3 separate regions of the Homo sapiens genome follow, and all the other regions are linked to region 1. Evidence: fine-mapped expression QTL. A gene starts in region 1. Each other region holds a variant in brackets. All regions are shown on one strand. Distances are from middle to middle.

What was found. PIP is the estimated chance that this variant, and not a neighbour inherited with it, causes the effect.
Region 2: its variant is the best candidate, but not a certain one, in a credible set for the expression of TMTC3 in visceral fat (GTEx, PIP 0.72).
Region 3: its variant is the best candidate, but not a certain one, in a credible set for the expression of TMTC3 in thyroid (GTEx, PIP 0.62).

What each region holds. Positions count from the first base shown.
Region 1 is chr12:88,139,420-88,145,240 of GRCh38, reverse strand. TMTC3 (transmembrane O-mannosyltransferase targeting cadherins 3) reads right to left here and starts at 2,934. Exons shown (of 14, transcript NM_181783.4): 1 at 2,754-2,934. It overlaps CEP290 (centrosomal protein 290), which reads left to right and starts at 3,153. Exons shown (of 54, transcript NM_025114.4): 1 at 3,153-3,341; 2 at 3,907-4,035; 3 at 4,208-4,285; 4 at 5,677-5,746. The coding sequence starts at 3,934. RefSeq lists enhancers at 2,564-3,067, 2,874-3,313.
Region 2 is chr12:88,093,730-88,099,549 of GRCh38, reverse strand. It overlaps CEP290 (centrosomal protein 290), which reads left to right. Exons shown (of 54, transcript NM_025114.4): 27 at 2,551-2,662; 28 at 5,575-5,780. Among named protein-coding and RNA genes, the nearest start is that of CEP290, 45 kb to the left of the region's middle. The variant G/A (reference allele first, on the strand shown) is at 3,208.
Region 3 is chr12:88,111,592-88,116,750 of GRCh38, reverse strand. CEP290 (centrosomal protein 290) reads left to right here. Exons shown (of 54, transcript NM_025114.4): 19 at 1,569-1,653; 20 at 2,189-2,331; 21 at 4,893-5,057. Among named protein-coding and RNA genes, the nearest start is that of CEP290, 28 kb to the left of the region's middle. The variant A/G (reference allele first, on the strand shown) is at 2,270.

The sequences.
Region 1 (5,821 bases):
TGAAGATAAGGCAAAACAAAATGTTTAGGACACACAATGGATACAAAATGGCCATGCTTTGTTTTAGAGATCGGAGAAGTAAGCTACTATGACTTTTCTTGGTAAGTCAGCAAAAAGGAACTAGAAGTAACATCCAAGGAATATAAATTCATTGCTACAGAGAACAAAGGTAAGCAATAATAAAAGGTGAGGCCTTCTTGTGAAGTGATTTTGGTCAGATAAAACTGTTCACAAAAGCCTAGGGCAGAAAGAAGGCAGGTCCAGACAAGTGTTCTTATAACAAGGCCACTTACAACATTGTCACATAAGTCCCATTTCTTGATGAAAACTGACAGGTGCAGAAAATCTGACGAAAAATAATAGTTTTGCCAATTTTCCTCAAAAATATACAGTGAGTTATTGAACTAGAACCTGAGTTAAATTTCCTGACTCACACTTAGGTACAGACGACAATGCATAAAAACTTAGTTGACTTGTTCAAGCCAGAGCTGACTTGTTCACTGCTGTATCCCCAGTGCCTAGCACAGGAAACAGGATAAAAAATACTGTTAGAATGAGTTAAAGAATAAAATTTAGGTAAGATTTTGCTTTTAGTTACAATTGTCACTGAGATCTAGGTTACAATCTTAGCTTCATCAATTATTACTTAACTTCTATGAACTTGTTCTCACTTCTGAAAAATTAGAATAAAATTTACCATTAGAGACCAGGCACCTTGAGTTTATGAATGTGAGCAAGAGGGTGGTGGCAGAAGGGTAGAAAAGAGTAATACAGACAAACGAAACTTGTAAGTGAATACATAAAAATAAGTTATAACGAATGAAAAAAAAAACAGAAGAAAAGGTGTTAGAGAAAACAGACTTCTATTATGAAAACAAACACGCAGTAGTCAGCATAGTGTATGACATAACATGTGCTCAGTAACTATTAAATTTCATTCCTACCATTGTCAGAGGTATTTGAATCACAACAACTCCATCTTGAATAGGGGCTGGGTAAAATAAGGGTGAGACCTACTGGGCTGCATTCTCAGGATGTCTGTCAGTCATTCTAAGTCACAGGATGAGATAGGAGGTGGGCACAAGATACTGATCATAAAGACTTTGCTGATAAAACAGCATGCAGTAAAGAAGCCAGCCAAATCCCACCAAATCCAAGATGGCGAGAAAGGTGGGACGTCTGCTCGTTCTCACTGCTCATTATACACTAATTATAATGCATTAGCATCCTAAAAGACACTCCCACCAGTGCTATGACAGTTTACAGATGCCATGGCAATGTGAAGAAGTTACTCTATATAGTCTAAAAAGGGGAGGAACACTCAGATCTAGGAATGGCCTACCCTCTTCCCAGAAAACTCATGAATAACCCACCCCTTGTTTAGCATATAATCAAGAAATAACTATAACAATCCTTAGTCTACCACCTCCAATGGGGGTGTATGCACCTCCAATTCTTTCTTGGCGAGATCCAGGAGCCCTCTCCTGGGGTCCAGATCAGAACACCTTTCCAGAAACACCATCCCATGTTAAATTATGAATTAAGAACACTGAACATGAAGAATGTTTAATTCAAATTATTGAGTAAACACTTACAAAATTAAAATATAACATTTAATAAAAATAGCAAGATTGAGGAACAAGCACTTCACAAATATTGGTTTCCCAGAATGTCTGAGGAGGTGTATAGAAGTTAAGAATATGTCCTCCAGCCAGAGAGATCTGTGTTCAATCACACTATTTAAGTTACTTAGCTTCTCCAAGCCTCAGTTTCTTAACTCAGATGGAAAATGAGGACAATGTAAGCACCTATTTCACTGGATTGTAAGGAAGAATAAACAAGATAATGAATAGTATTTGGCATATAATCTTTCAGAAAAGTAGTAAAATTGTCATTCCTATAAATCTAACTAATGTCTTTAAAATTCATCTCACAAAATCAGTATCTTTTTATTTTGTACTGAGCTACTTATTTTACCCAAATTGGGGGTTTAAAAAGAAACTCATTACTTATTTTCGAAAGGAAAATTTACTGTCAAGTACAGTAATTTTTTTTTTAAAGCAGCGTTTAAAAAAAAAAAAAGACAAAGCACTGGTCCAGATAGTTGGAAATGTCATTTAGATTTAAGTCTACAGCTTCTTAGGAAAGTTAGGTAGAGATGTATCATACTCCAGCATGATTGTGAGCAGACGAGCAGGATGAGCAAAACTTGCACGAGTAAGAGTGGTAAACACCAGAGAAGGCGCTTTCATGGAAGGGCACCCTAGGTAACCAAGCAAGTGGCAACAATAGTACAGGTGAGTCCTTGGATCCCTTCTCTCTCCACCCCCGGCAGTGGTCCGGACAAGTACTAACCTCTCCTCTCTAGAGCCTTGACTTTATACTAGCTCCACAACCATCAAGCCCCACGATCCGCGAAAGGAATGGTGCTACAGGTAAGGCGGGCGGGGTCGGGATGCCGAGACCTCTTGTCAATTCTTCGCTCGCCCCCAAACGAGGATCACGGCTGCGCGGCTCTCACTCTAACTATCAAGACAGATTCTGATACTAAACAAGGCTAAAACTTTTTGTTTTTTCCTTCTTACAGAAGGCACTACCCTGGACGCCGCTTGCAAACGCCTGAAGAGAAGGCAGGGTGTTCCCACTTTTTCAGAATGGGACCAGGCCCTACGGCCCCAATAGCAGAAGCTTCTCTAACCCAGGACTGCTCCCCTCAATTCCTCCCAATATGCTGACCGACAGCTCGACCTCACCTGGGGGCGGTTCCGCCAGGGGATGGCTTAGGAAAACCTCAGGAAGAGCAGCCCAGCGAGTGACGCCACTGAAACCACAGTCATGGTCTACCTCGTTCAGGCCACCAGTTTGCAGGCGCCTGAGCCGCTGCTCCTCCCGCCTCTCGGTCCTTCCCCGCCGCCCCGGTACCGTCGCAGTCTTACGCGTTGCATGCCGGGAGCGCCTTACCTCCTCTTCTCAGGGACTTCAGTTCCCAGCATGCAGAAGCCTCAGGCAGAACTGCACTCTGGGATTTGAAGTCCTCGTTCCACGCCTTCTCATCATCCTGAACACCGAGCTCTGGGACTCCGGCGGAGAATCTAAACGTAAAGCATCACCCACGGTCGTGAACTGTAGGCTCTCCTGGCATCCGGGATCTTATTCTGGCCTTGGCGGAGTTGGGGATGGTGTCGCCTAGCAGCCGCTGCCGCTTTGGCTTGCTCGGGACCATTTGGCTGGACCCAGAGTCCGCGTGGAACCGCGATAGGGATCTGTCAGGGCCCGCGGCCGGGTCCAGCTTGGTGGTTGCGGTAGTGAGAGGCCTCCGCTGGTTGCCAGGCTTGGTCTAGGTGGGTGGATCCTTGTAAGCAGGATTAGCGAGTCACTCCACGCTCAGGTTCTTTAGCCTGAGGGCCCGTGTGCCACAGCATAGCTACCCCGCCCTTCCAGCCTCGGGTCCCTAATACTGCCTTGCTTCGGTTCCAGTTTCCGCCGCACAACTTCACTCATTCCAAATGTTAATTTCTGCGTTTTTTTTCAGCCCCAATTCTGTTTCTCCAAATCAGGGATGATTGTCGGCCTTCCACAGACCCTCGCGCTTGCCAGGATTAGGGTGTTCGCGCGCATTGTGGGTAGGGGTGTGGAGGAAGGGATCCAGAAATCTTAAGTATTAACTTAGATTAGTGTTAGCAAGGAAGCCGTCACATTTTATTTAGCCGGGACACTCTGACAGTTTGTGCCGACTGCTATTTTTGATCAAGGCTATTTTGCCCACTTGTCTATTTTGTGGCCCAATTGTCTGTTTTGCTAACATCAGAAAGTTATAATGAAATAATCTGCAAAAAATGTAAGGTGCTAGAAAACCAATAATACTGTGTACCTTGAAAATGCTAATATACACCTGTTTTGTTACAGAGGTGGAGCACAGTGAAAGAATTCAAGATGCCACCTAATATAAACTGGAAAGAAATAATGAAAGTTGACCCAGATGACCTGCCCCGTCAAGAAGAACTGGCAGATAATTTATTGATTTCCTTATCCAAGGTGCTTAATTGGTCAATAATAATAGATATATACATTAACTTATGATTAATTTATTAATAAAATATGAATTTATTTTTTTCAGGGACAACTATAATTGTCACAATCTGGAAGTGTTCTTATATTTTGCTTGAAGGTTATAAAATATAAAACAGTTGCTTTTCTGTTTACTTAGGTGGAAGTAAATGAGCTAAAAAGTGAAAAGCAAGAAAATGTGATACACCTTTTCAGAATTACTCAGTCACTAATGAAGGTTTGTATGTAGTAGGTTTTAACTATAGGTTTGGCTATTAGTGGAACTATAAAAATCTGTTCTTATATAAGGTAATCTTTGTGAAAATACCTGGTAATATCTACATCACCACTAAAAAATGCAATATATTTAAATGTGAATTAAGTATTTTAGTGTATAAAACATTGCTAGTTTCTACTTAAAGTTTCTAAAAGGGTGTGTAGGGGAAATAGAATGAGTATGTTGAAAAGTAACATAAGGAAATATATCTTGAGGTCCAAATGACAAATGCAGACAATGACTGCTATAGGGATTTGTTAAGAGGGGAAATGATTTAAGAGATGTCAGAAGACTTCACAAAGGATCAATACTGAGGAGTAGTGTTAGATAAGTGGAAGGCAATGCAGTGGTAAGATAGTAAGGGAATTCTAGAGCTGTTGGTTACCATAAATAAATACTGAGAACAGGAAATATGTTTATTCTTTATATTTGAGGAAACAAGGTGCAGCAAGTTTGTAGCAGACTGTAGAGAAAACAAATCTTGGGTAAGTACTTTGAGATAGGTTGTTGAGGGCCTTAAAGGTGTATTTTATGCTATCAGCAATTGAGAAGGCAGTAAAGGTTTTCGAAACACAATTGATAGGTACAAAAATACACCTTAAGAAGGCAAAACTGAGTATATTATGTAGGACAAACTGAAGGAAATTGGAGCTTTGTAGACATCACATTATAGCGGAGTTTAAACCTGAAATTATGGATTAGAATAATAGCAATTGGAACAGAAAAAAAGTAGTGGAAAGACATTACAAAGGGAGATGTTGCATTACTGGATATAAGACTTGAGGACTTGAGGTAAAAAGGAGAATCAAAAATGTTTCATGCTATTAAAAATCTAGAAATTGTAGTCTTAAGTAAGAAAATTGCCTGGCATGGTGGCTCACGTCTGTAATCCCAGCACTTTGGGAGGCCAAGGCAGGAGGATTGCTTGAGCCTGGGAGTTCAAGACTAGCCTGGATAATATAGTGAGTCCTTGCCTGTACGAAAAAATTTGCCGAGCATGATGGCACACCAAGCATGATGGCACGCCAAGCATGATGGCATGCACCTGTAGTCCCAGCTACTCAGGAGACTGAGATGGGAAGATTGCTTGAGCCCAGGAGGCAGGAGGTTGCAGTGAGCTGAGATTGTGCCACTGCACTCCAGCCTGGGTGACAAAGTGAGGCCCTATCTCAAAAGCAAAAAAAACAAAAACAAAAACCAAAAACTATTTATTCAGCAAATATTTACTGAACGTCTCCATGTGCCAGCCATTGCTGGCACTAAGGATCATAACAAATAAAACAGAATTTTTATTTTCAGTGCTTACATTCCAGTATAAAGGCATATTGAAATAACCTTTTTTTAATGTTTAGATGAAAGCTCAAGAAGTGGAGCTGGCTTTGGAAGAAGTAGAAAAAGCTGGAGAAGAACAAGCAAAATTTGGTAAGCACCTTGGAAAAAGTTTATTATGGTATTAAATAATGAATTCCATTTGTTCATTAAACTGTAGAAAATTAA
Region 2 (5,820 bases), 46 kb after region 1:
TTCTAGGATATAATTTATTTATCACTGAAATCCATTGCTTAGAGTACCTGGCATGTAGTAAATAGGCATTCTGTTTTTTCAAATAAAAAATAAAGGAACTTAAGATATATATTTATGTTATATCGCCAGCCTTTTTCCTCACAGCTCTATTCTGTTGTACAGAATTACCTACTTTACAATTCCTGTGTTTCAAGGGGATCTCAAATTTAACGTGTCCACAATGAACTCCTGATTTCTGTTTCTCTCCTAGTCATTCTTATTTCAATATATGTTCAGTTACCTAACCAGCTAGTCAAGGCAGATACTTTAGAGTTATTCTGTAGTCATTCTTTTTCCCTACCATTTTTGTTTTCCAAATGTAATTTATGTGTGTCTTCTTCATCCTCGCAGCTCTAACCCTTGTCCAAACCAGCATCATCACTCATCTGGAGTTCCACAATGTCTTTCTGGCTAGTTTCCCTGATTTCTCTATTGACCCCTTTATTCTCCACAGTGCAGCCAGAATGATTGTTTAAAACTTCCTCCTTAAAATCTTTAAATTGTTTTCTTTTATACGTTAAGTTAAATTCCAGTTCCTTGTCTTGGCATGCCATGCCCTGCCTGGTGTGGCCCCTGATGGTCTCTCCAACTTCATGTTTTACTACTATTGACTCTTATTTTTGCTTACTCTGCTTGGGTGCTCCAGTCCTCCAAATCATTTCCTGCTCCAATCATTTCAATCATTTTTTCCTCTCAGATCTTATAGTATTCCAAATGCTTTCTTCCTTTGGAGCATCTGGGTTTACTAATAAATACTTCGTACCTCACAGTTCAGCTTAAATATCAATTATTTGGTGGTTAAGACATCCTTCAACCGCTCTATCTAAATGTTCCTTTCTATTATTCACTGGCTCAGTACTCTGTTTTTATTTTCTTTCTAAATGTCAACTTTTTTTTTTTTGAGTCAGGGTCTCACTGTTGCCCAGGCTCGAGTGCAGTTGCACAATCATAGCTCATTGCAGCCTTGCCCTCCTGGGATCAAGTAATTCTCCCACCTCAGCCTCCAAAATAGCTGGGATTACAGGTATGCATCACCATGCTCAGCTAATTTTTTGTGTTTTTTTGTAGAGATGAGGTCTCACTTTGTTGCCCAGGCTGGTCTCAAACTCCTGGACTCAAGTGATTCTCCCACCTCAGCCTCCCAAAGTGCTGGGGTTACAGGTGTGAGCCACTGCACCTGGTCGATACTGACTTTTTTTTTTTTTTGAGATGGAGTTTTGCTCTGTTGCCCAGGCTAGAGCGCAGTGGTGTGATCTCAGCTCACTGCAACCTCCACCTCCCAGGTTAAAGGGATTCTTCTGCCTCAGTCTCCTGAGTAGCTGGGATTACAGGCAAGTGCCATCATGACTGGCTAATTTTTGTATTTTTAGCACTATGTTTAGTACTGTGTTGGCCAGGCTTGTCTCGAACTCCTGACCTCAAGTGATCCACCCACCTCAGCCTCCCAAAGTGCTGGGATTACAGGTGTGAGCCACCGTAATCGGCCAACATTGACATTTTTAGTAGACTTTTTGTTTGTTTACTTGCTTATTATCTGCTGCCTTCCACACTCTGGCGAAATCCTGCCACCCACCCACACACACATAGGCACTGAATGGGCAGAACTCTGAAGGCCAGAATTTTATATTTCTTTTCACTGTAAACATCATCATCTGTCACTGATGGCACACTAGGATGCTCAGCAACTGTGTGCATGAAGGAAGTAAGCACTAGTTTGTGAAGGCTGCAAAACTCTTGAGTATTCTAAGAGTTTTGGCCAAAATGAATGTACAGCTTTAGTGGCAGAAGCTAATACTCAGAAATTGAGGCCGTATATTGGATAACACAGGATTTGGATGATTATTTTAAAATAATATTTTACATTGTATATATGTGTGTGTGTGTGTGTGTGTGTGTGTGTATGTGTGTGTGTGTGTATATATATATGTATGTATGTGTATTAGTCCGTTCTCATGCTGCTATGAAGAAATACCTGAGACTGGGTAATTTATAAAGGAAAGAGGTTTAATTGACTCACAGTTCCACAGAGCTGGGGAGGCCTCAGAAAACTTAACAGTTATGGCAGAAGGGGAAGCAAACACATTTTTCTTCACATGGTGGCCGGAATTAGAAGAATGTGAGCCGAGCAAAGGGGAAAGCCCCTTATAAAACCATCAGACATCGTGAGAACTTACTATTATGAGAATAGCGTGGGGGAAACCACCCCCACGATTCAATTACCTCCCACCAAATCCCTCCCATGACATATGAGGATTATGGGAACTATGATTCAAGATGAGATTTGGGTAGGGACACAGCCAAACCATATCAGTATGTATATGTATACAAGTATTATATATATATGTATGTGTTTGTATGCATACATGTATTATATATGGAGGAAATTCTAATTTTGTAAAAAACTGGATTGTGAGTTTTAAGGAGATGTTATATAAAGTTAAGACAATGTCATTTTGTGGTATTGGTCTGAATTACAATGTAGTTTCTTAGTGATATTTTTCCTTTATTCAGTGTGAAAACATCTCCTTAAAAGAACAAGTGGAGTCTATAAATAAAGAACTGGAGATTACCAAGGAAAAACTTCACACTATTGAACAAGCCTGGGAACAGGAAACTAAATTAGGTAAGTTTTATGACTCTGATAATATAAAATGATTAACATCTAATAATGAATATTTCTTATTTAAAGTTCCTTTTTTATGCTAGATTAAAAGGAAGTATTTTGACTAAAAAAAGAAAGAACTTTCTGCCTAATAATTTAACTTAGGCAGATGAATAATCCTGTACTTAACCCCACCAAAGTTTAGTTTTCAGTCCTTAAGTTAGATTTGTTTCTAATGAAATCATATATGTTAAAAATTTATGACTAAGTATTAGCTACTTTGAACCGTTTAACAATTAAAACTGATGATATTTTATTAATGGTATTATGAGTTCTTTCACTGAGTGCAAGTTATATTAGTTATATATCACTTGATATTTTTAAATTAAAAGATACCAGGAAACAGCAAAGAAAATGTGAAAAGAAGTTGTATTTCTCATAGTTTTACTACTATATTACTGTATATTTTTGCTCCTATATGCTTACATATTTTATATATTTTAAATTATTATAAACATGGTTTTATACTGTATTTAGATAGTAATATCAAAAATATTTTTATGGCC[G/A]GCGCAGTGGCTCACACCTGTAATTCCAGCACTTGGGAGGCTGAGGAGAGCAGATCCCCTGGGGTCAGGAGTTCGAGACCAGCCTGGCCAACATGGCAAAACCCCATCTCTACTAAAAGTACAAAAATTAGCCAGGCGTGGTGGCAGTTGCCTGTAATTCCATCTACTCAGGAGGCTGAGGCAGGAGAATTGCTTGAACCTAGGAGTCAGAGGTTGCAGTGAGCCAAGATCATACCACAGCACTCCAGCCTAGGCGATAAGAGTGAGACTCCGTCTCAAAAAAAAAAAAAAATTTGTTTTATTCATCATACTTATAAATACTTATACAATAGCCTAATGTGTTTGAGTGATTAAATCACTAGCTTTTTATATTTTTGCTATTGCTTATAGTGCCACAGTGAACATTTTCATGTATATCTAACAGAGATATTACTGTCTCAGAAGGTATTGAAATCTTTGTTGCTCTCATTAGAGTTTTCCATATTAATTTTTCAAACAGTTATATAGTTTATAAGATTTTCATAATTTTATCTCATATATTGTGCTTCATAATTTTCAAATAAATTTGCTGCTTTCGATAATGTATTTTCATGTATTTGTTTCCTAGACGTTAGAGCTATTCAAGGTTTTTATTACTAAATAGAGCTGTTCTCTTAAATTGGTAATGAGATACTTGGTTTAGAGAAGCCTAACACTGGGAAATCTTACATAAGCTACTTTTAGAAATGTAATTTTTAGCTCAATAAGAGATTAAATATGAATTGACTTTTGTGTAGTATTTGCATGGAAGAAGGTACCATTTAAATGAAGACATGAGAGTATTACGTACAATTTTAGTAGGTTCTTTTTATTTTATCATCTTTATTTTTAATAAATGCTGAATTCCCTACAGAAATTCTTTAATTTTTACATATCTTGATCTCTTTCATATATGGATTTATATCACCGAAGTTTTAAGAGTGTTTCCCTATTCCCTGTTGCCCTTATATCTTTGTTTAAAAATGTCACATCATTAGCTTTTTTTCATCTAGGAATTTGTTAGTGTTGGGCTGTTGTGCTCTACCCTCTCTTTAAGAAAACTCCAAACCCAAAAACATACAAGATGGCTAGTCTGCTTCAGCCTTTGTGATGTGCTTTTCTCTTCTAATCAGAGTTTAGCACAATACAGAATGGAGAAGGACTCCTTTATATATTGGTATTTATTGCAGTATTTTTCTACATGGTGCCTAAGGTTACTTGAATGAGTCTTTATTCCATAATGAACTGATTTACTAATGCTTTTAGCACCTGTTAGTGATCCATTATTGTTAGTTACTTGATTACTGCTTGCCACAGCTATTCTAAAATAATACATTTTAAAGATAAATACAGAACATAATGAAGTACTTTTTAAAACTGAGATAGAGACCAATTTTTTTTTCAGGAAATGTATATTACTTTGAGAAAACTCAGTTATAAAACTTGAACTTATGAAGCTGGAAAAACAGGAGGGGGCATTATTGGTATTGTAAAAGGCTGTTTACAAAGTGAGTTGCTGCTTAGTTCCTTTAAGTAATTGGCTACCCTAAACACATCAGTTTTAAGTTGCTGAAAAGCAAAACACTCTACCAAATTTTGTTTTTTTTCTAGACCATGTTTACAAAGCAAAAGTATGTTTTCTTCCCCCCCCCTCAAAAAATGACTAATGACACTCCTATGCGATGCCTTTTTATGGTAAATTGAGGCTTTTAGTTCTCTTTCCATTTAGCCACAGACTTTTGTGTCCAAAGACAAGCTGCGTAACTGCATATATAAGGTTAAGGCATAACTACTAATAAAAGAATGTAAAATATTTGATATTAGGTCTGTACAAAGACCAAATAATACTCATGATTAGACAAGATTATATTTGGTAGAATCTATCCATCATATGGCTTCAGATTTTACTTTTCAGCTTGGCTTTGTGAGACTTTAAAAATCAAGTCATTGCACTTATATTCACAAAGTCACATTGCTTTACTGCATTGCTTCTCATACAGTTTATCTCCTTTCAGTAAAATGTTTACTTGCCATTTTTAAAATTTCTTATATGTGACACTTCTACACTAAGTCCTTTATGTTGTTAGTTCCACAATTCTGTGAGGAATAGGTTTTTTTTTTTAATCATTTGATTGATGAAGAACATTAAGTTCCACAGAGATTAAATGGTACAGGCATCACACAGGCAGGAAGTAACAGAGCTAAGATTAGAGTCCAGGTCTGATGGAATTCAGAAAGCTAATGTGCTTTCCATGGAACTATAATGCTTTCTAATATACAGCATCTAAAATATCTGAGGTAATTTTAATATAAACAGCATGAGATTGACTTAAATATTATTGCATGTAGGTAATGAATCTAGCATGGATAAGGCAAAGAAATCAATAACCAACAGTGACATTGTTTCCATTTCAAAAAAAATAACTATGCTGGAAATGAAGGAATTAAATGAAAGGCAGCGGGCTGAACATTGTCAAAAAATGTATGAACACTTACGGACTTCGTTAAAGCAAATGGAGGAACGTAATTTTGAATTGGAAACCAAATTTGCTGAGGTTTGATATTATAAGTTTTATCATACAATTATAGAATAAA
Region 3 (5,159 bases), 28 kb after region 1:
CGCCCGCCTCGGCCTCCCAAAGTGCTGGGATTACAGGCGTGAGCCACCGCGCCCGGCCAGGAAAATATTTTTATTGTGTTTTCATTTCTTCCCCCTTTATCTCATTCTTGAACATCTAATCTTATTATTGTTGTTAAATAAGTAGAGGGAAATATTTGCTTATTTAACCTGTTGATTCAAAGATTGATTAATGAGACATTATTTACTCTGAATACAGATTAGGAGTTCAGATAAAGCAGAGCTGCTGCATAGGAGATCATCATTCAATACCCCACAGTCAGATCAGAATGAGACAGAAGAGAATATGACCATAGGATCATTATCAAGAATGTTATCTGAAATTCACCATAGTGTAGAAAGTGGAATGCATCCTTTTGTCCCTTTAACTAGACTTTCTTCATCCATGCAAGTTAAAGAGAATTCAACTCCAGAAACTATTACAATAAGAGAGATTTTTAAAGCACCATGTCTGCAGTCTTCAAGAAATCTAGAATCGTTAGTCAGCACCTTTAGTAGGGAAAGCCATGAAGAAATAAATGACATATGCCTTTTTTCTGATGACTGTATGAAGAAGGTGTCAAGAAGCCATCAAGCACTAGAGAAGACTAGTTTTGTACAAAAAAGCAATTCATCTTTTCATGGCTTATCAACAGCTTCAGACATAATGCAGAAGTTATCACTTAGGCAAAAATCTGCAATATTTTGTCAACAAATTCATGAAAATAGAGCTGACATGGATAAATCACAAGTAGCAACATTAGAAGAAGAACAGGTTCATTCCCAAGTAAAGTATGCTGATATCAATTTGAAAGAAGATATAATAAAAAGTGAAGTACCCTTACAGACAGAGATATTGAAAAATAAGCTTAAGGTTAATCTTCCAGACCCTGTGTCTATTACTGCACAATCAAAATTATCTCAGATAAATTCTCTTGAAAATCTTATAGAACAGTTACGGAGAGAGCTAGTATTTCTTAGATCTCAGGTGAGTTTTTCTCCAAATTATATTTCTGTGGTTGTTCTTTTATGACGTCTCTAACAAAGTTCTGTAACAATTATAGTTAGAATATTTTTGTTTGCACTTTAACATCAGTTATACACATTGTACTTTTTAAAATCTAAAATGCAGTACATTGATATGAACTCATTGACTTGTCTAATTTATTAAATTTTTCTTTAGAATGAAATCATAGCACAGGAATTCTTGATCAAAGAAGCAGAGTGTAGAAATGCAGATATAGAGCTTGAACATCACAGAAGCCAGGCAGAACAGGTAGTGTAAAGGCAGAACATTAAAAGAGATGATTGTGGTACTAAAGACAAAAACCGTTATATCTTTTTGCCTCTTACCATGGATGTTGGGAGAGGGAGAAAGTGGGATTAAGATCACCATCTGCTTTACTGTTTAGATTTTAGTTTATTTTTATGATTGCTGCTATGTCTTCATAGCTCGTTTTTTTTGTTTTGTTTTGTTATACTTAATTGATCAAACTTTTCTTAACTTGAAAATTATAGACTTGTGATATTTTGTTGAAAAAAATCAATTTTATTCTCTCTGCTTTTTTCAGAATGAATTTCTTTCAAGAGAACTAATTGAAAAAGAAAGAGATTTAGAAAGGAGTAGGACAGTGATAGCCAAATTTCAGAATAAATGTAAGTTACAATTATCTTTTACTTTTCTGTTCTTATTTTTCCTATACTTAAAATCATGGGCCTAAAAGGGCGTTAACACATTCTCTGTTTTCTAATCTGCTTTACTCCTAATTACCTCTGTACTGTATATACTTCAGTCTGTCACTATCCAGTTGATTTGCCTTGCTGTTTTCATTGTGAGAGAATGTTACTAATATGAATTTTTTGTGAGAATATATAACTCCTTTTTCTTGTGTGTTCTTCAATCAAAATGAAGTTAGAACACCAAATTTAAAATACTTTAATATAAAGCATAGTTTAAGTTAAGGCAGAAGTATGCCTTATATACGTGTGTATATGCACGTGATATAAATAGGTCTGTCATTTAACTCAACTATTCACGTTGGATTTATAGTTGAATTTTTTTGTATGTTTATTTACATTTGGATTTTTCCAATGATGTCTTTGGTATATGTGAAATATTTGTCATCTGTATAGCATAGTGTAAATTGTGAAAAAGATCTGATCATCCAATGAGAAAACTGTGTAATTACAGTAAAAGAATTAGTTGAAGAAAATAAGCAACTTGAAGAAGGTATGAAAGAAATATTGCAAGCAATTAAGGAAATGCAGAAAG[A/G]TCCTGATGTTAAAGGAGGAGAAACATCTCTAATTATCCCTAGCCTTGAAAGACTAGTTAATGTAAGTTATTTTTTTCATGTTAATGTTTTTCCCCTATCACTTTAGAGAGATTTTCTGCTGTGTACAGATCTCCATAGTTTCTGATGAGATATTTTTAGTCATTTGAATCATTGTTTCCCTGTATGTAAAGTGTAGTTTTTCTTGAGCTGCTTTCAATACTTTTCTTCTACCAATTGGATAATTGTTATTAATCTGTCTTCAAGTTCACTGACATTTTCCTCTTTATCTGTGTTCTTTTGGTTCAAGGGTCAGCTTGAGACCTTGAGGAGTTTTTTACACCGACTTTGGAGCTCGTTTTTGCTGACTCTTTTCTTATTGGGATTTTCCTTTCACTTATCCCATGGCTTTGGGCTGTATCCTGTGGTTTTCTAGATGAGAAAGATGATAGATCTCTGCAATTGCACCCTGCCCTATGACTAAATCTTTAAAAATGGCAAAGTCAATCTTTGCTGGTCCTGTCTTCCGTATTTGAGGGGTTTTTTCCCAAAATCTGCTTGCTTTTGTTCATTTTCTAGAACATCTAGGTAGTTTTTTTTCATTCATTTTTTATTTATGGGAGTGTAGATCTCTTAGGAACTTATGCCATCAGAAGTATTATGAAATGGCTTTATTCTAAATGTTTAAAGATTTACTCATTGCTACAAGAAAGATTTAGCCATCACTAATATTCTATATATATTTACCATATAGGGACTTGAGAATTTCACAGGATTCAGTATCTGTATATAAACTTGAATAATATACACATTTTAGATTGTTAATATTTAAGTATATGTCATTTATGTTATCTGAACATATTTAGCGTACATTGTCATATTATTTCCCAAATTTGTGCTTGATTTCAAATGGGAAAAAAATTCTTATTATTTATTGAATTGTTTTTTTAAAAAAATCATGATTAATCAGTAATTGGATACTTTTTAAAATAACACTATAATTGTTAACAGAGAATGAGAGTGATACTGGTATGTTAAAAACTTCCTGAGGCAAGAAAATAATTTGATTCCCATTATATCTTTCTCATACTGACTTTCCTTCTCTGATTGGTGATTTTGTTTTGCCTCTGCCACTTTGAATGTCTAAAATGATTCTTTATGCTTTTTTTATGTGAACATCTTTTGTCCGTGATGATGCCCACTACTGATACTGTGTCCCAGATCAAACTTAATTTTCCAAGGGCAGCTCTACTTAGTGACCAAATGAAAACACAGTGAATAGCCCAAGAAATCCTAACTTCTATTTATGTTGACAATCTCTGGACCTTCCTGAAGCCACTGTTTGCATAGACTTCATTTACTTTTATCCGGGATTGTCATTGTTTTTTCAGATTCATAGGCCCTATCTGAAATTCACAAATCACCTAGCAATACTTCTCTAAGAAATCTTCAGAATCCATGACAATTTAGACCAGACAATGCTGGATTATGCACTTCAGTTCACTTTTTGTTACTACAAGGTATTTTTCAGTGCCCCCAACAGCTATCTTAACTCATTCTCATTTTACCAAAGTCCATGTAGACACGGCACTATTCCTCAATGAGACAACTAACTAGACCACCTTGTTGTCAGTCAGAGTACCTTCCTCTACCTACTTTTATCTTCCTTATATCCTCTTTGAGTTAGTATAAGTTATTACTCTGCATGACCTGCTCTAATCTCCTTCAGGGGAAGGCTTTTACAAATCTACTACCTAGAGTTAAACCCCAGATCACCTTCCTGAGTAGGAGATTGCATTTGGTTCTATTCATTTTACCTTATTTGGCTTCTACCTTCACTTTTTAAGACTTACTTTGCCTTTAACAGTTTTTTCCATACAGTTCATCTAAAGTCCAAATATATTTATTAGATGTGTGCATTGTGTGTATATACTTAGATATGCCACTGTTGGAGATTTCGGGCCAGTGATGCCACTCTGATAATATTTTAATATTTGACATATTATTTTTGCTTACTCATTATTCTTAGATAATATCATGTTATGATACCTTGCCTTTATTTTTATTTATGCTTCAACTATGTGGAGAGGAAGCACTGAAAAATTCACTTAATTGAATGTTGTATTGATCAATTGTTCAATATTGTATTCCATTCCTTTGCGCATGCTTTGAATGCAGGTGCTATATAATTTCAGAGAAAAATACCTCATTTTGACTGTACAAAAACCCCATGTAGGGAGCAGAGCTCACATTGTTTTCCCCTTTTAGAGACAAGAAAACTAAGATACAGAGAATTTAAGTCACTTGCCCAGCTGTTAAGTGACTGATTAAAATTTGAACCCTGGTCATCTTATTCCCGTCTGGTTGTTTTTCTAGTCTACCAGTCTATTAAGATTAGCTAGGTGTTTTTTAATTGTTTTAATGAAGTAATTACTATGCTTGGTAATGTAAATGAAAGTTTTATAGATTCATAAATAAGAATTTGAATTGGCATACTTTATTATCATGCTTGGCAATGAAAATAGGAAAATGCTTAAATGTCCATTTTATTTAAAGACAGACTGTTTTTTACTATGATTTTACTGTTTTTCTCCACATTTCTAATATATAATATAAATTTGCTAGGCTATAGAATCAAAGAATGCAGAAGGAATCTTTGATGCGAGTCTGCATTTGAAAGCCCAAGTTGATCAGCTTACCGGAAGAAATGAAGAATTAAGACAGGAGCTCAGGGAATCTCGGAAAGAGGCTATAAATTATTCACAGCAGTTGGCAAAAGCTAATTTAAAGGTGAGAATTTTATTAAATAAAAGAAAATGCTAAACATAAGAATGTAGATTTAATAGGAAATTTTTAATTTTTTAAAAAGAATGCTTTATGAGAAAATGCCCC